Regions from separate parts of the Homo sapiens genome. Here regions 1, 3, 4 and 5 are each reported to be linked to region 2. The links are microRNA targets in miRTarBase. Many come from high-throughput screens and were not tested one by one. Region 2 holds a microRNA gene; each other region holds the end of a gene's coding sequence.

Region 1 (3,261 bases), not on the chromosome of region 2:
ACTAATTTCCTAAAGTTTTAAACTGAAATCTCTTTAAACAATAGGTCACTTTTTAAAAGGCCTTCTATATTTGACATAATATTATTAATGGGAACAATAAAAAACAATACATTTGTGAAAACTAAGAAGTAACTGAATATAAATATCTTTATTAATTTAAAATCAGATTCTACAGAAATATTTTATCACCAATAGAATACCTGTGTAAAAAACTAAAATTGAAATTTGAAAATAAAATGCACTAATTGTATGACAATTTTAAAATTCATTAATGTAAGGATTGAGCGCTAAAGATGGAGGAATAATTTGTTGGCATATAGAACAACTTTTAATACTAAAATACATTAAGTTAGTGACTTACATTCGTTTACTAAAAGGGCATGAGGTCTTGGCAAATGTTTTTTATTCTGAATGATTGAGGAAAACAGAAAAATTGTTAAAATTTTAAAGAAATATTTTATACCTTGTAAAACATTACATTAACTTATGCATAAACTAAATACTACTGAAAAAGATTTAACTCTTTATTTTACAGAATTGATTGGTAATTGATTTAATGACTAAAATAGGAAAACTGAAAATGATAAATATAAGTTTGGACCATCTATGAAAGAACACTTTAAGTTCAAACTTTCAGAAAGACCCTGTGGTTGTTTTAAAAGGCAGCGAGGGTCACTTTGGTTGTGTAAGTAATTGTAATAAATCAGAAAATATAATTTAATAATCTAGTCAATGAGCTCTGTAGCCAGTGAGACCTAAAATTAATTACAGCTTTGAAACTCATAATGCATGACCTTTACAAAGTTACTTGGTGTCTACAACACCAGTTTACTAATCTAGATTGGGGAAAATAATTTATGAAGTATAATGTATATAAAACCCTTAACATACAACCTGGCACACATTAGTCCTCAATACATATTAGATATTTTAATTATTTTTAACACAATTGCCATTTTATTATTTCTAATTCATACTGAGTGTGTAAAATAACTAATGAGGTAGGAGTCTCATGTCAGTGTAGTACATCTTTTTTGCAATGTTTGTTTGGCTCAATTTTTTTTAGGTCGTCCTATTATTTATAATTAAGTTTAGATTTGCATTTTATGGAAACTACTTCATTATTACATTCTTAAAAAAATAAAATCTGCTTCAATTAAATATAAGTATGTGTATGAGAAATTATGTTTGACATTCACAATTTGATGTATCCATTAAAAATGCATTTTTAAAGTCTGGGCTAAATATAAAGTATTATTACATCTATAATGATTATAAAATTTCAAATTAATTCTTCATTGTCGTGATATTTATCGGTTTCACTCTAAATTATATTGATTAACAAACCTATTATGATGTATGCATGTGCTTGACTAATTCTCCACAGGCAATAATGTAAATACTTTAAGAAATCCTCAAACATATATTATATTTTGGGTTGCTTTTCACCCTGAATTATTCATGTACAGACAGTTCTACTTTGATTTTATTCTGTATTAACTTTACCTTGTTGCATCACATTTAATATTTACAATTTTCTACTAAAGGAGATGAGCTAGTAGAGAAACAGGAGACTAGCAACACATACCTTCTGTCATCAGAAAGTCACACGCCCCTTAGTGGAGAGGTCAGGTTACCTCTTAACGACACAAAAGACATCTGTGATCCGGTGAAACCCCGTCTCTACTAAAAATACAAAAACTTAGCCGGGTGTGGTGGCGGGCGCCTGTAGCTGCTTGGGAGGCTGAGGCAGGAGAACGGTTGAACCCGGGAGGCGTAGCTTGCAGTGAGCTGAGATCGGGAGCCACTGCACTCCAGCCTGGGCGACAGAGCGAGACTCTGTCTCAGAAAAAAACAAAAAACAAAAAACAGATATCTCTGATCTTCACAGACTGCCCTGTGAAAGCTCAGAGTGAGGCAAGAGTGCAAAAAGCAGATTCCTCATCAATGTATCACTTCGGATTTGAACAGGAAGTTTTCACACTAGGGCCATTTTGAATCAGTTTATCTCATCATACACCTCAGAATATAAGAGACTGAGCTGCTAGGGTGTCATTTAGTTTGTCCATTTTCAAGTGACTTTTAGAAATTATTTTTATAGTAAACAAGATTTGGGGAGAACAAAGACTACTACCCATGCAGTTGTTTCCATCTCAATCACAAACACTAAAATCTTATACCTTTTTCAGAGTCTCTTACATGTTTAACTTCTACATTTACACAGGGTGGCTAAAACTTGGGATTACGTACTTCTTTATCATATACCCCTATAATATCACTGCTAATATGACGATAAATTTTTAAAATAATAATCTTACCAATAGGAATTTAATGTATTTGTCACTAATTATTCTGAGAAAATACATTTCCACTTCATTGTAATTGACATCAATTCTCAAAGTTAAATTCCCAACTTACTTTCTTGATAGTTCTTAAAATTCTCTCATTCAGTTTTTTAAAAATAAATTAATCAGATAACTCTCATTGAAATATATGTCTCTGGGAAGAATAAATAATTAAAAAATATTGTACTATATCACCACGCCAGAGATTGAAATATATAAAAACCACTCATTATATTGTTCATTGATTTATTTTCCAATCATAACGGTCTGCATTTTAATATTAATATTTGTTGTAAATGACTAATGCTTAAATCAAACTATATAGAGAGGGAAAAGTAATTTTTAAAACATCATCTAGTTAAAAATAGGGAGGGCAGAAAAAGTAGATTTTTAAAACACAAGCTAAATGGTACATGAGCACTCAGGGGCGGTGGCTTGTGTCAGTAATCCCAGCAACTTGGGAGGCCAAGATGTGTTGATTTCTTGAGCTCAGGAGTTCAAGACCAGCCTGGTCAACATGATGAAACCCCGTCTCTACAAAAAAATACGAAAATTAGCCAGCATGATGGTATTGGCCTGTAGCCAGCTACTCTGGTTGCTGAGGTGGGAGGATCGCTTGAGCCTTGGAGGTGAGGTCGAGGCTGCAGTGAGCCGAGATGAAATTTACTGAAATTGGGGAAATATACTTCATAATGATAAATTAATTTTCCAAACCATTAGTAATATATTTTTTATCATTGCATATACCTAATGATACAAGTTCAACATATAGTTGAATAAAGTGAACAAGTAAACAATCATAAATGGGATTTTTAAAGACTCTTCTCTTGATGCTTAATACAAGACAGGCCAGTGAGCCTATAGAAAGATTTAAACTAGACAAGTAACCATCACTCATATGAATGCATTCACACAC
Region 2 (3,261 bases):
ACATTGAGAGATGTCCCTGCTTTCCTTATCGAAACTCTGATCTGTCTATGAGTTATTAACACCCTTGTCAGTAATATCACTTGTCATTAGGTCACAATTCTTGGGACTACCATTGTCTAGGTTCTTCTATTCCACATGCTTTGTTTCTGTGCATGTTGAGTCCAACATGTGTGTATATTTTAGGTAGTGTCACCTGTTTGGATATCCACAAGACCTATTTACACAACACCTGTTACAAAAACTCACCCCAGATGTTTTCTTGTTTGTTCAGTTTAATTTATTATACAAATCTTCACATTTGAAAATATAAGCAAAAGTGATTCTAAGCCACTACAGGAAATTCACAAAAGCAACACCTGGTGTCAACATATTTCATCACATTTTAATGATTATGATGTGCACAGGTGTGCTGAAAGTTTCTCCTCCATACTCTTTGATTCTTTTTTAAAATTTTTTTAATTATACAAGTAATACACTTCTAGAACTAATAAGCAATCATAGCAAGCTTGTGGGACAAAAGTTAATATACAAAGTCAATTGTCTTCTTATTGCTAGCAATGAACAATTGGGACTTGAAATTAAAAACACAATACCATTTACATTAATGCCAAAAATTTAAATACTTAGGTATAAATCAAACGTGAAAGATCTATATAAGGAAAACTATAAAACTTTGCTGAAAGAAATACAAAAGATCTAAGAAAAAGGAAAGCTATCCACATACGCAGACAGGAAATCTCAATATTGTCAAGATATCAGTTCTTCTCAACTTGACCTATACATTCAATGCAACCTCAGTTTTAAAAATCCCAAGCCAAAGTAAAAGCCATCTACGGCACACAGCATTCCGAAAGGTTTGGGCTACCTGACTATTATGGCACCAAGAAATCTCTGGTATATGAGAACTTTCACTTTAATTCAAAATGTTGGATGACCTGATTTTCAGCAGAAATGCTCTTCAAATCAGTTTCACTTAGGCTTTTTGGTGTGAAGTGAAACGATGCAGACAATGAGCTTTGGAGAATGAGGAACCACTGAATAACTTACTATGGAAGTGGATACTGACATGGCAAAGAAACGACAGCCTGGAGTTTTTAACAGAATGTTCCCAATGAGCAGGACCTGAAGATGTTTCTTCGTTCCAAAGGAGCTAGCAAAGAAGTGATTGTTAGCATCATATCAAAATAACTAAAAGCTATAACACACACTCTTGAACGTCTTTCAAAACAATGGGATCTATGAAGGATTATGATATCAGATCTTGATACTGTAAATATTTTGGGCCATTCTCCTGAATGCTTTCTTTTGTCCCATGAAAACCTAAACTTAGGGATTCTATGAGTTCCTCTACTCAGCTGGATTTACCTGTAAATGCCTTTGTTGATTGTTGACCAATGTCCCTTGTACCTTTTCCAATAGTCTCGATCTGAATAAACAGATGGTTAAAGTTTTGCAGGAAGTATATTTTTCATTGGGTCACAATGATCCCACAGATTTTGTAAGAAAGATGATTTTTTAAAACCCTTTCATCTTAATTCAGGGTACCAAGCAGGTAAAAACTAACATTGAATTTTTACAGGCAAGTTTCAATTTGAACAGTAGGGAATTGCTATTTTAATATGTGGTCCAGGAACCAAAATCCTAGACCTTTCCAATGACTATGCCAAAACAAACTACACAAATATCAAACAGAAGCTGTTTTCTCTCTGAGGTACTGAAGAAGAGGTACAAAAGCTTGCCTTAAGTTATCCAGATGTGGGGAAAAAAAGTTATCCAGATGTGATCTTTTGGCAGAGAAAAAGTTTAGTGAGAAGAATATTTTAGCTTGGTGCAAAAGTAACTATGGTTTTTGGGCAAAAACCATAGTTACTTTTGCACCAATCTAATGGATTGTCTCATAGAATAATAAATTAGCCTTCTGTGAAAGTAATTTGTGATAACTGAAAAATCCTTGGGTTCTGGATTCAAGCATAAGTACTTTATAAAGTCAAATCAAAGAATTAGTAAATGCTGGCTGTAACTTGAGGACATCAAGCATCACTCTTCTACTCTGGAGTTAAAAAAAAAAGATACAAAGTAAATTTAAAAAGTTAAGCAGAACACTGGGGAATTTTTGAAAGCCAGTCATATAATGTAGTGGTATCTTTTCATTTTGAATTTGGGCCTTTCAAAAAGGAGGGGTATGATTTCTTAACCACAGATATATATATGTAATAATTCTTTGGCTATTTTGTTTTACAGGTTTATGGAAACTCATGGTTGATATGCTCAGGTGCAGTCCTCCTAGCTACCTATTTTCCAGTTTGAATTACTCCAACATACCATTATTTGATACAGGCTGTGCTGCTGTAGAGATGGTAGTGCCATGGTGATTTGCTACACAGATCATCCCATCACCTAGGTATTAAGCCCAGCATCCATTAGTTACTCTTCCTTATGCTCTCCCTCCCAGCAGCACCCCTCCAACAGGCCCCAGTGTGTGTTGTTCCCTCCATGTGTTGACGTGTGCTCATTATTCAGCTCCCTGTTGTAAGTGAGAACATGTGGTGCTTGGTTTTCCGTTCCTGCGTTAATTTGCTGAGGGCAAAACCTGATTACTTTGAAAACAAGTTCTACTGTGGCAGGCAGAATCATGGCCACACCTAAAGATGTCAACGTTTTAATTTGAAGAAGCTGCGAATATGTTATGCAAAAAGATTTTGCAAATGTGATTAAGTTGAAATTTGATTAAGTTAAGGGCCTTGAGATGACCTTGAATCATCTGAGTGGACCTAATATAATGCTAAGGGTCCTTAAAAGTGGAAGAAGGAGGCAAAAGAGGTCAGAATGATGCTGTATAAGACAGACTTGACCACTTTGAAGGAGGTGAAAAGGAGGCTTTGAAGAAGGAAGGGACCATAAGCCAAAGAATGCAGGGGGCCACAAAGAAAACTGAAAAGCCAATGAAACAGAATCTCCCCTAAAGGCCCCAAAAAGGAATGCAGTACGGCTGGTACCTTTTCAGCCCAGTGGGCCCAGTATCATACTTCTGTCCTACAGAACCACAGGATGATAAATTTGTGTTGTTTGAAGCCACTGAGTCTGATAATTTGTTACAGCAGCAAAGATTAACATAGCAACTAAGTAGATGATTTGTTGCATTATAGGTGGTCACAAAATACAATCCTTTAGTATCATGTATTTTTTCCTCTTACAAGAGTAATTACATTTAAAAAAGCTATCTACTGTTCTAGAATCACTGTCGTTGTTTACAATAAAGTC
Region 3 (3,261 bases), not on the chromosome of region 2:
GCTTTGTTCCTGCTCTTCTTCTCGGCATTCCTGGTGGCAGATTCACTGATTAACGTCTGGATCACTCTCACAGTTGTGTCCGTGGAGTTTGGAGTGATAGGTTTCATGACATTATGGAAAGTAGAACTGGACTGCATTTCTGTGCTATGCTTAATTTATGGAATTAATTACACAATTGACAATTGTGCTCCAATGTTATCCACATTTGTTCTGGGCAAGGATTTCACAAGAACTAAATGGGTAAAAAATGCCCTGGAAGTGCATGGGGTAGCTATTTTACAGAGTTACCTCTGCTATATTGTTGGTCTGATTCCTCTTGCAGCTGTGCCTTCAAATCTGACCTGTACACTGTTCAGGTGCTTGTTTTTAATAGCATTTGTCACCTTCTTTCACTGCTTTGCCATTTTACCTGTGATACTGACTTTCCTGCCACCCTCTAAGAAAAAAAGGAAAGAGAAGAAAAATCCTGAGAACCGGGAGGAAATTGAGTGTGTAGAAATGGTAGATATCGATAGTACCCGTGTGGTTGACCAAATTACAACAGTGTGATAATGTCTGCTTGGCATATTTTCACCTTAGGTCTTATCAAGACCAAAGAGATTATGTTAATGAAACAATTAAATTCAAAGTTCTTCCCTTTTTTAAAGATAGGAAACAGGCATTGCCAAAAAAAAAAAAAAAAAAAAAAGGAAAGGACAGTGGGGAGAAATGGGCCTGGCATATTTTCAGTCTTTAAAACAAAGGAGTTGTTATGAGAATTCACACACACATAGACACACACACACACACACACACACACACACACACACACACACCCTGGGAGACCTATAGTCTCTTAAACTAAGATCAAGTAGAAGAAAGCTTATTAACAAGCAGGATCCTGCCTTATCCAAACTGCAGATGTTGCTGGCATTGTGACAAAACCCACTGATTGAAAGGTCAACTGCCAAGGCAGAAACACCTTTAAGCATTGTTCAAACAATAAGGCTTCCAGAACTTCTGTAGAGCAGTAGCTCCAGTCATGGTCTGTGGTTTGAGGTTTTAGCTGTCTCACCTAGCTCCCTAACACTGAAGGAGATACTTGTGAAAGTTCTGACCAGCAAAAGCAAGCCAGAGCCTTGGAAACTGATATGTGGTAGAGTGGCCATCACTCATGGACTAAAATTGATTCACCGCTAAATTTACCCAGGTGAAGCAGTTTCGTTGTCTAGAATGAAATTATCATATTCCGCCATTGGTATGCCTTTAACATTTGTATAGTTTGGTTTGCTTAAAACACCTTAAAACCAATGACAGCTCCAGCACTGCAGAATTGGTGTGATTCTACTTTGGAATAGCTTGTCACTTGTCACCAAATGGGTCTGCTTTATTAGTTACAGCTCTTGGCAGGAGGATCCAGGGACCCAAAACCACAGGGCCAAACCCAAATACCTGGCATGATGGAGCAAAAGCAGGTGTCTACTTGGACCCAGATATAGTGTCTCCATTTTAACAACAACAACAAAATAGCCAGCTGGTACAGCTGTTTGCATTGGCCCTACATGCATTTTTTGCATGGATATCCAGAAACATCTGCCCACACAAAACTGCGGGGAAAAAAAATGAACACTGAAATAGTTATTTGCTGTTGCTTCCAACTTGTAGTGCCAGTCTGCCTTTGCTGTGAAACACACCTGCTCAGAGACAGAGAGGGGAAGAAGATCTTTGGTAAGTCTAAGTCCTGACGCTGAGAAGCTTTGTAAAAGTGCAGGGAGATAAAGGGCCAAAAGGGAGATAGATGGAAAACACTGGAAAAAGTATTCACTGATACAAATCTATCAATGATGGCAGTCCAATTCTCTTGCTAAAGTGGCTGCACCTCACCTTGCTGGTCCCCCCCACACCTTTTTTGATGTCCTTCTGCGTCATCATAGCAAGGCCCTTCTGTAAATTAACAAGCCTAGATATTTATACTCTTGACTTCCAGTATCTACAGAAGAATGGTTCATAGATCTAAACAGAAATGGTTTAGATCTAAAAAGGCTGTATACGTTGCCCAGGCCCCTGCATTTCTTTAAATTTATAAAAATGAAGCTAAAACCTGGTTACATTTGAAGCAAATATCTACAGTATTTTTCCCTTTTAGAGATGTAGCTTCCTTAGACATCTGTAGTGGTAAGCATTTCCCAAAAGCATCTTACCTTTCTGAACCTTAGCAGACATACTGTGCAGCTTACCTATCTTCTGCAGAGGAGGAAACTGAGACCTAGGAGAATAAAGTGACTCACTCAGGTCACACCACTAAAGGGTTTTCATCATTTCAGCATACCTAAGACAGGGCAGTCCAATTTTCAGTATTCTCATAAGATGGCTATTACTCCTCTCAAAATGCATTTCCAAAGTAGGAACATAGGACTTCGTTGGCCACAGGGCAGACATTTTTTTAGTGTCTGGAATTAAAATGTTTGAGGTTTAGGTTTGCCATTGTCTTTCCAAAAGGCCAAATAATTCAGATGTAACCACACCAAGTGCAAACCTGTGCTTTCTATTTCACGTACTGTTGTCCATACAGTTCTAAATACATGTGCAGGGGATTGTAGCTAATGCATTACACAGTCGTTCAGTCTTCTCTGCAGACACACTAAGTGATCATACCAACGTGTTATACACTCAACTAGAAGATAATAAGCTTTAATCTGAGGGCAAGTACAGTCCTGACAAAAGGGCAAGTTTGCATAATAGATCTTCGATCAATTCTCTCTCCAAGGGGCCCGCAACTAGGCTATTATTCATAAAACACAACTGAAGAGGGGATTGGTTTTACTGTTAAATCATGTGTTGCTAAATCATTTTCTGAACAGTGTGTTCTAAATCAGTCATTGATTTAGTGTCAGCCACGTGGAGCACCTCGGCTTAAAGCAGCTCCACAAAACCTGACACAACACACACACCAATTAAATGGATTTTGTTGAGAATTTAATCATTCAATTTGGTCAACCAGAATGACTTCCTGTGGAACTCTGTTTTATGACAGATAATAGTTTTCCAACTTGATTGAGTCTCTGTATACCCTGGGATATTGTATTTTTTAATGAAGGGCATTTTCAAACTTGTCAACTTCTCTTTTCAGCACTTGAAATGAAGGCTTATGGAATTCTGACTGTGAAATGAATTTTTCTATTGGGAGATTATGCATGCCAAGATTTATTATTTATTGTTAGATAATTATTATTTATTTGTTAATACTGATTATTGATTATTGCTCTGCTGCATTGGTTTAGC
Region 4 (3,220 bases), not on the chromosome of region 2:
CCAGAAGTTTGAGACCAGCCTAGGCAATAGAGCAAGACCCTGTCCCTACAATAAATAAATAAATAAATAAATAAATAAATAAATAAATAAATAAAAACACCTAGCCAGGCATAGTGGCATGCACTTGTAGTCCCAGCTACTTGGGAGGCTGAGGCAGGAGGATTGCTTGAGCCAAGGAGTTTGAGGATACAGTGAGCTATGATCACATCACTGTAATCCAGCATGGGCAATAGAGTGAGACCCTGTCTATACAAAAAGAAAAAGAAGGCATAATGCTACCTGCACCTTGATCACCCTTTATTTTGAGGGTTGGAATGATAGAAGTGATGTAAATGAGTTCTACAGAGGATATTTCTAAAACTAAGGAAAGTGAGTCCATATGTAAATCTTTGCTCTGTAATAAAAAAGAGAAAAAAACAAGAAGTAAAAGAGGGGGGACATAGTTTTCAAGAAAGCCTTTAGAGGTATGTTGTTATTAAAAACTTACTTTTGGCTTTATCAATGTGAAATGTTGTTAACCTGTGCTTTCTTTTGTGAAACTCTCAATATTTACTTGCATAATTCAAAGTCTCAAACTGCTTCTGAGCCTGTTACACATTATCCCCATTCAATAATATGGCATGAATTATGAAAGAGGACAGAGTAAATATTTTTGTCTTCTTGATATGACCTGTGTGACCAGTTTTGTTAGTTGAAATTAGTTTACAAAAACTAAATTCTCTTTGTTCTACATTACAATCTTAGTATTATATGAATCCAGAAATATCCTTTTCATGTGCCAATAATGCTACAAGAAAATGTGAAAATAAATTATTCTTTCTGCTAAAGATACTATATAGCTCTCAGGCATTTCTAACTTCTTTAAAAATAAAGTATGATTTCTAAACTGGAATGGAGAGAGAAGGGGCAGGTAAAATGGTTTACCACCCTATCAACACAGAGTAAAGCCCAACAATTAATGTGGCCTGCCTACTCAATGTACCACCTACGCAGAGCTTCCGCTTATGTATGAACAACCAAGGCTTGCCAGATATTAAGGAAAGAAACCCCAGCAAAACAATCCTAATCAAAGGAATATGAGAGGATTATCAGATTATCGGATTATATTAGGATAATGTTCTAAGTGTTTTACATTGATTAACCGAATACTGACAGGAACCCAATGAGGTAGATACATCTACATTATGCTAGAGATGACAAGGCAAATAAAAATTAAATTCCCTACGGTCAAACAGCAAGTAAGCAACACAGCCAGGCCCCAGAATCCACGCTTCTTAGCTTCTACAATACTCTACTGCTCAAACACGGGAAAGAGGAGATCAAAATGCATGGGCTGCAGAAACAGAATGAAGGGAACAGAGGGAAACTTTATCAAAAAAATTAAAACTATAATCATATTCTGAGAGATATAAGATACTGCATCTAGAGGATAAGAGTAAAATGATATGAAAAATGACCAAATAGAGAATAAGAAACTCTTGGGGGATAAATGAAATGAAAGCTAAACTTCATATTCAATAAAATGATTTTAGGCCGGGCATGGTGGCTCACGCCTGTAATCCCAGCACTTTGGGAGGAAGAGGCAGGTGGATCACTTGATGTCAGGAGTTTGAGACCAGCCTGGCCAACGTGGTGAAACCCTGTCTCTACTAAAAATACAAAAATTAGCTGGGTGTGGTGGCGCACGCCTGTAATCCCAGCTACTCAGGAGGCTTAGGCAGAATCACTTGAACCTGGGAAGTGGAGGTTGCAGTGAGCCAAGATTGTATCACTGCACTCCAGCCTGGGCGATGGAGTGAGACTGTGTCTCAAAAAAAAAAAAAAAAAAAAAAAAAGATTTTAAAAAACAAAAATATATCTCCCCCCAAAAGTAGAACTGAAATAAAACTTAAAAACAGTGCCTGCGAAATTCTAAAATTCTAAGGAGGAAATTCCTATCAGCCCAAATTAAAGGCAATTTCAGAAATGCAAGGAGATAAAAAGTTTACCTCTCATCTTCCCTTTCTTAGTAAGATACCAAAAAATGGTACACAGCAAAAGAAGGCATATGCTAAGATGGGAAAACATGGGATTCTGGAAATAATGGTGCCAACTTAAACGGTCTAGAAAAAAGGTGACAGTTGTGTGGCATAACTAGGTTGTAGGAGAAAAATTATAAAGTGGGTAAAATGACAAAGCATCTGGAAAGAACTAAGAATATAGAAGGAAAATTAGGCAAGCAGAAGAATGTAAGGTGAAGGTTAACTGGAGGAAAAACCAAAAGCTGTACCACAAAGAAAATCACGGTGGCTCACACCTGTAAAATATGGGCATTGAGCTTTACAGGGATTGATCGTAATATAACTATTTAGAAGGATGAGACAAAGGAAATGAGAAGGTGTCAGTTAAATCATTATTTATCATAAAATGAAGGCAATTTGAACTCAATGTCTAAATTATCAATAGATAGCAATGGAAAGTAACTTCTCAATCTTTTAGTCTAGACTATTTAACCAAAGGTATGTGTTCCTTTAATAATTTTTCTTTAGTTTATTGAAAGAAATGTTTACAACATGACACCAACAGAAGGGATCAAAGTGTGTCGTGAAATTGCGAGTCTTCATTCCTTTTTCTTGGTTCTTTGTATTCAAAGATGCTATTTAGTGTGTTCTGTTCTTCATCTTCTCTCTTGTTCGTTTTCCAGGTCTCTTCTACAGAAAAAGACATACCACATCTGGTCACATAGCAGCTTGCCTTCTGCCCCAGGGTGAGGACGAACAGAACTGAAGGGAGAGGGCAGGGTTGGGAGTGGGAGGGGAGGCTGAGCCTGCTCCTCACCCGGGCACCTGGGCTCACTTACATTTGACCCTTTCTTGCCAGGCCTCTTGAGGCCTCTGCCATGAGCTGTCTTGGCCCGGAAGCTAGATACATCATCATAGCTCTCCCGAGTGTTCCACTTTGAGCCTTTCTTCTTTCCACCAAAACCAAACTTCTGGTTTTTATACCGTCGTTTAGCACTGGGCCTGGAAAAGAATGGTCCTAGACATCACTACAGCACTGTAAAGCCTGATGAACCTGATGGCCCAGCAATGCTCTCAGTTTCCTTTCTATAAGCAAAGCCCCTTAGGCACGTCTGTAACCCAGAATCTCATCCTTGGCCCCACAATCCTATGCTACAGCCTCTCTAGACAAACTCATCTAGCTCACCTATTTACAGTTTTGACCACCAGGGCAGGAAAAT
Region 5 (3,261 bases), not on the chromosome of region 2:
TATTTTACCTCTTAATTATCTTCTACATTGAACTCTAGAGACAGAGCAAACTTATCCTAACACATTTCACATAGAATTCAAGTTATTTTTTGGGTGATAAAGCCGAGGCCTGTTATCATTCATGCACTATTATTGCAAGCTGTATTGACTAGTAGTTTAGTCATATAACTATTTTTTTCTTTTATTTTTATAAATTTTTTTTTTGTAGAGACAGGGTCTCACCATGTTGCTCAGGCTGGTCTCGAACTCCTGGCCTCAAGTGATCCTCCTGCCTTGGCCTTCCAAAGTGCTGGGATTATAGGCGTGAGCCACCATGCCTGGCCCACCAATATATCTATTCTTATTTCAATAGGAATATCTAGTTACTTTGTTTCTACAAATGAGTTTGTACCTCGTAGGTACAATGAGTTGTACCTTGGCTTCTTACTGGGGAGGACGTGGTAAAAAAAAATGAGACGTTTTAGACTCTTTGAGGGTTGGAAATTTTACCCAGAACATGAAAGAACATACTAGGGACAGGAATTCAAAAGATGATGATAGAGAATAATACTTTATTTGCCAAAACAAACTTTGGGCCTTATAATTAATTAATACTGTATAATCCTTATAATGGGGAAAGCAATAGTATCAAACTTCAAGCTTCTAAAGGGAATTTGGTATTACTCCAGTTAAAAAAAAAAAAATCCATGTTTTTTGTACCACAGCAGGGTCAGAGCAGCAGCCAAACTCTGAAATGGCTTTCAGAGTTCATGATGAATGCTAACCTACTTACCAAACAGGCACTTCAGCTACTCACTGTCAGCAGGCCACATCCTGTTCAGTGTGATGACTAAATGTAGAGTGAGGAAAAGGTGGAGAGCAGACAGTTCTATATTCATGACTACAGCCTTTTCCTTCTACATGCTTGACCTCCAAACCTCCCATGAAAAAAAAGTCCAAGGCTATCTTTTCTTTTTCATTCAGTTGACCAAAATCACAAGGGGGCATCCCTTAAGACAACAGAACCAACTTCCCCTTCATCTAGTAGGATTAATGTCCTTGCTTAAGCCACAAACAAGATGTTAACTGCCTTATATTTCATATGCAAGTGAAATATGAGTCATCCACTGATTCACGTAGCAACGCAAAACATCTTCTCTTCATCCTCTTGGTACTGTGTTGGTCGGTCATTTAATTCCAGAGGAATTGCTGTACCTTCCACAGCCAACTCTCCACCTCACTTGTGACACACAGCATGCACCCGGTGCTTCAAGTCTTTTGTCTTTCCTTGCTTCCAGACATCCTGAGACTTTAGAGAAAGAAAGTAATGGCCAACCTGATGGAAAATTCACTAAACTCCCTGTACAATTTTTTCTTTGTCTCAAACTCCTCATCTGCTCTTCATACTGTAAGTTCCAGAAATTGTCCATAGTAAGAATCTGCCCCATCCCAGCCAGGATAAAAATTTAGGTGATATTGCAATTATATTCTTCATGAAGTCACAGTAAAACGGTGGTTTTTAAGCTTTAGTTTACATCAGTATCGCCTGAAGGGCTTATGAAAGCAGGTTTCAGCCCTCGCCCCCAGAGTTTCTGATTCAGTAGGTCTGGGATGGGGCTGGGAACTTGCATTTCTAATACATTCCCAGGTGATGCAGATGCTTCTGTTCTCAGGACCACACTGAGAAACCTGCCTTAGACTGTTCAAGAATGCCATTGCTTGCTATCCTCCCTGGCCATCTTCACAGTAAGACAGTCTAGACTTTCATAAGAAGAAAGCCCTTATCCATGCCTTAGAAGGCACTTGTCCTTGACCTATATAAATGACAGAACATGGAAAACAGAGACTTAACTATAAAGAAGCAGAATTCATAGAAATCTTAGCACGTGTTTCTCGATCAGGAAACAAGTTAATGGAAAAAAAAGAAACTCACTCCTCTAACCAAGAGGAATTCTAGGTACAGACTAAGCTAGCTTCTTTTACACAGTAAGAAATATTTCGGGAGCAAATGTTAAACAGTACTTCATTTTTTAACTGTGCTAGGGTGTAAGAGAAACCAGCCCAATTACAGGCTTAGTTATACAACATCAAGAACTACAGCTCACACATTTAGTTAGAACACTTGGTACTACTCAGGATAGGAGTTCATCCTAGAGGAACAGGCACAAACCATGGTTAAGCTGCTTGGTTTAATTTTTTAGCACTTGAAAAAAAATGTACAGTAGTTTGAACACTCAGTCTTTGCAAACCTCCATTGAGGTCAAAGATATCATTCATACGTACAAAATTAGTTTATAAATTTTTTTGGCAATTTCATCTTAGTAACCCGTTTTGTCCTATTGCCATTGTCCCAACCATTGAAAAAGTTTACAATAATTTACATAGAAATATTTTCAAAGTGCTTAAGAATAGTGATTGTTCTCTGGGATATTTACAGATGGCCTATACAATGTATGTACAGGTGGTATACACTATAGCACAAGTTTCACTGCTGGAATATGGCTTTCTAGGGAAAGTGCATATTTGGCCAGAGGTGGCAATACTGTCTAGAAATTCAAGGGTTACAGATACTCGGTAACCACATCCAAAGCTGAAGTAGAATGTGGACAAGAATATTTACAAAAGTAATATAAAAACGGTCAAGTACACAAGCTTGATCCACGCAAAGGTATCTTGATGTTCTTCCAGCCGAGAGGAAGAAAAAGAGACTTCAGCTGCTGGCTCGGTTACCATTCCGACGGGGGTATTATTTGTTTAGACCTCAAAGGTCAACATTTGTCACAGAAGTCAAGCTAGATCATCATCTGTGCTTACAACTGATATCTGTGGAAAAGAAGAAGTATAGAATGAGCTTGGTGATCACTCACTGATGGCAACTCTAGTCTTTAAAATGGACCTTGCTTTTGAGTTGGTCATTCAAACACTCAGAGTGCTTAGAAGAAAAGTCAGTCAGATACAAAAGAATACTGAGTTGTATCATTCATGCATTTAACTTGAATTCAACTATACCTGCTTGGTAGTGAGATAAGATAGTGTGACTAATTCTGTCTTTTCTACTTAATGATCATAAGTCTTGGGGAAAAATGTGAAAAGCCATGTGTGTGTCAAGAATTGACCACTGTTCCATGTTTCACCGGAGTTTGAGAGGGGAGTGATCAATACTTGTTTTGTTCAGCCTGTTTCCTACGTGAAGGCCAAATACTCCACTTGGGTTTCATCTGAAGAACAAGTGAGTGACTATTGCTGGAAGAAAAGCTAGCTATACTAAGGGCGGTGGGATAC

Evidence for each region. Region 2 holds the annotated microRNA hsa-miR-548bb-5p (AAAAGUAACUAUGGUUUUUGCC, at 1,853-1,874, opposite strand). A microRNA usually pairs through its seed, bases 2 to 8, with sites in the 3' UTR of a target mRNA and lowers its output. Matches are read on the target gene's strand: a 7mer-m8 pairs with bases 2 to 8, a 7mer-A1 pairs with bases 2 to 7 and ends in A, and an 8mer does both.
Region 1: miRTarBase lists KLRC3 as a target of hsa-miR-548bb-5p. Seed matches in the 3' UTR shown: 7mer-m8 at 2,678-2,684.
Region 3: the mRNA of PTCHD1 is a reported target of hsa-miR-548bb-5p. The part of its 3' UTR that is shown has no 7-base or 8-base seed match.
Region 4: the mRNA of EBNA1BP2 is a reported target of hsa-miR-548bb-5p. Seed matches in the 3' UTR shown: 7mer-m8 at 2,456-2,462.
Region 5: the mRNA of VLDLR is a reported target of hsa-miR-548bb-5p. Seed matches in the 3' UTR shown: 7mer-m8 at 2,601-2,607 and 7mer-m8 at 1,301-1,307.

The regions. Positions count from the first base shown.
Region 1 is chr12:10,409,738-10,412,998 of GRCh38, forward strand. KLRC3 (killer cell lectin like receptor C3) reads right to left here. Exons shown (of 7, transcript NM_002261.3): 7 at 2,578-2,879. The coding sequence ends at 2,835. KLRC4-KLRK1 (KLRC4-KLRK1 readthrough) reads right to left here and starts at 409. Exons shown (of 13, transcript NM_001199805.1): 1 at 362-409. It overlaps KLRC4 (killer cell lectin like receptor C4), which reads right to left and starts at 20. Exons shown (of 4, transcript NM_013431.2): 1 at 1-20.
Region 2 is chr3:60,615,985-60,619,245 of GRCh38, forward strand. MIR548BB (microRNA 548bb) reads right to left here and starts at 1,886; the gene lies at 1,821-1,886. The region is part of intron 4 of FHIT (fragile histidine triad diadenosine triphosphatase); the gene reads right to left. It also overlaps the pseudogene MTERF1P1.
Region 3 is chrX:23,393,637-23,396,897 of GRCh38, forward strand. It overlaps PTCHD1 (patched domain containing 1), which reads left to right. Exons shown (of 3, transcript NM_173495.3): 3 at 1-3,261. The coding sequence ends at 549. Among named protein-coding and RNA genes, the nearest start is that of PTCHD1, 60 kb to the left of the region's middle.
Region 4 is chr1:43,161,804-43,165,023 of GRCh38, forward strand. It overlaps EBNA1BP2 (EBNA1 binding protein 2), which reads right to left. Exons shown (of 9, transcript NM_006824.3): 8 at 2,840-3,002; 9 at 2,381-2,690. The coding sequence ends at 2,640. Among named protein-coding and RNA genes, the nearest start is that of MIR6733, 8.3 kb to the right of the region's middle.
Region 5 is chr9:2,653,374-2,656,634 of GRCh38, reverse strand. It overlaps VLDLR (very low density lipoprotein receptor), which reads right to left. Exons shown (of 19, transcript NM_003383.5): 19 at 1-2,802. The coding sequence ends at 2,767. The region is part of intron 2 of LOC105375957 (a long non-coding RNA gene); the gene reads left to right. Among named protein-coding and RNA genes, the nearest start is that of VLDLR-AS1, 33 kb to the right of the region's middle.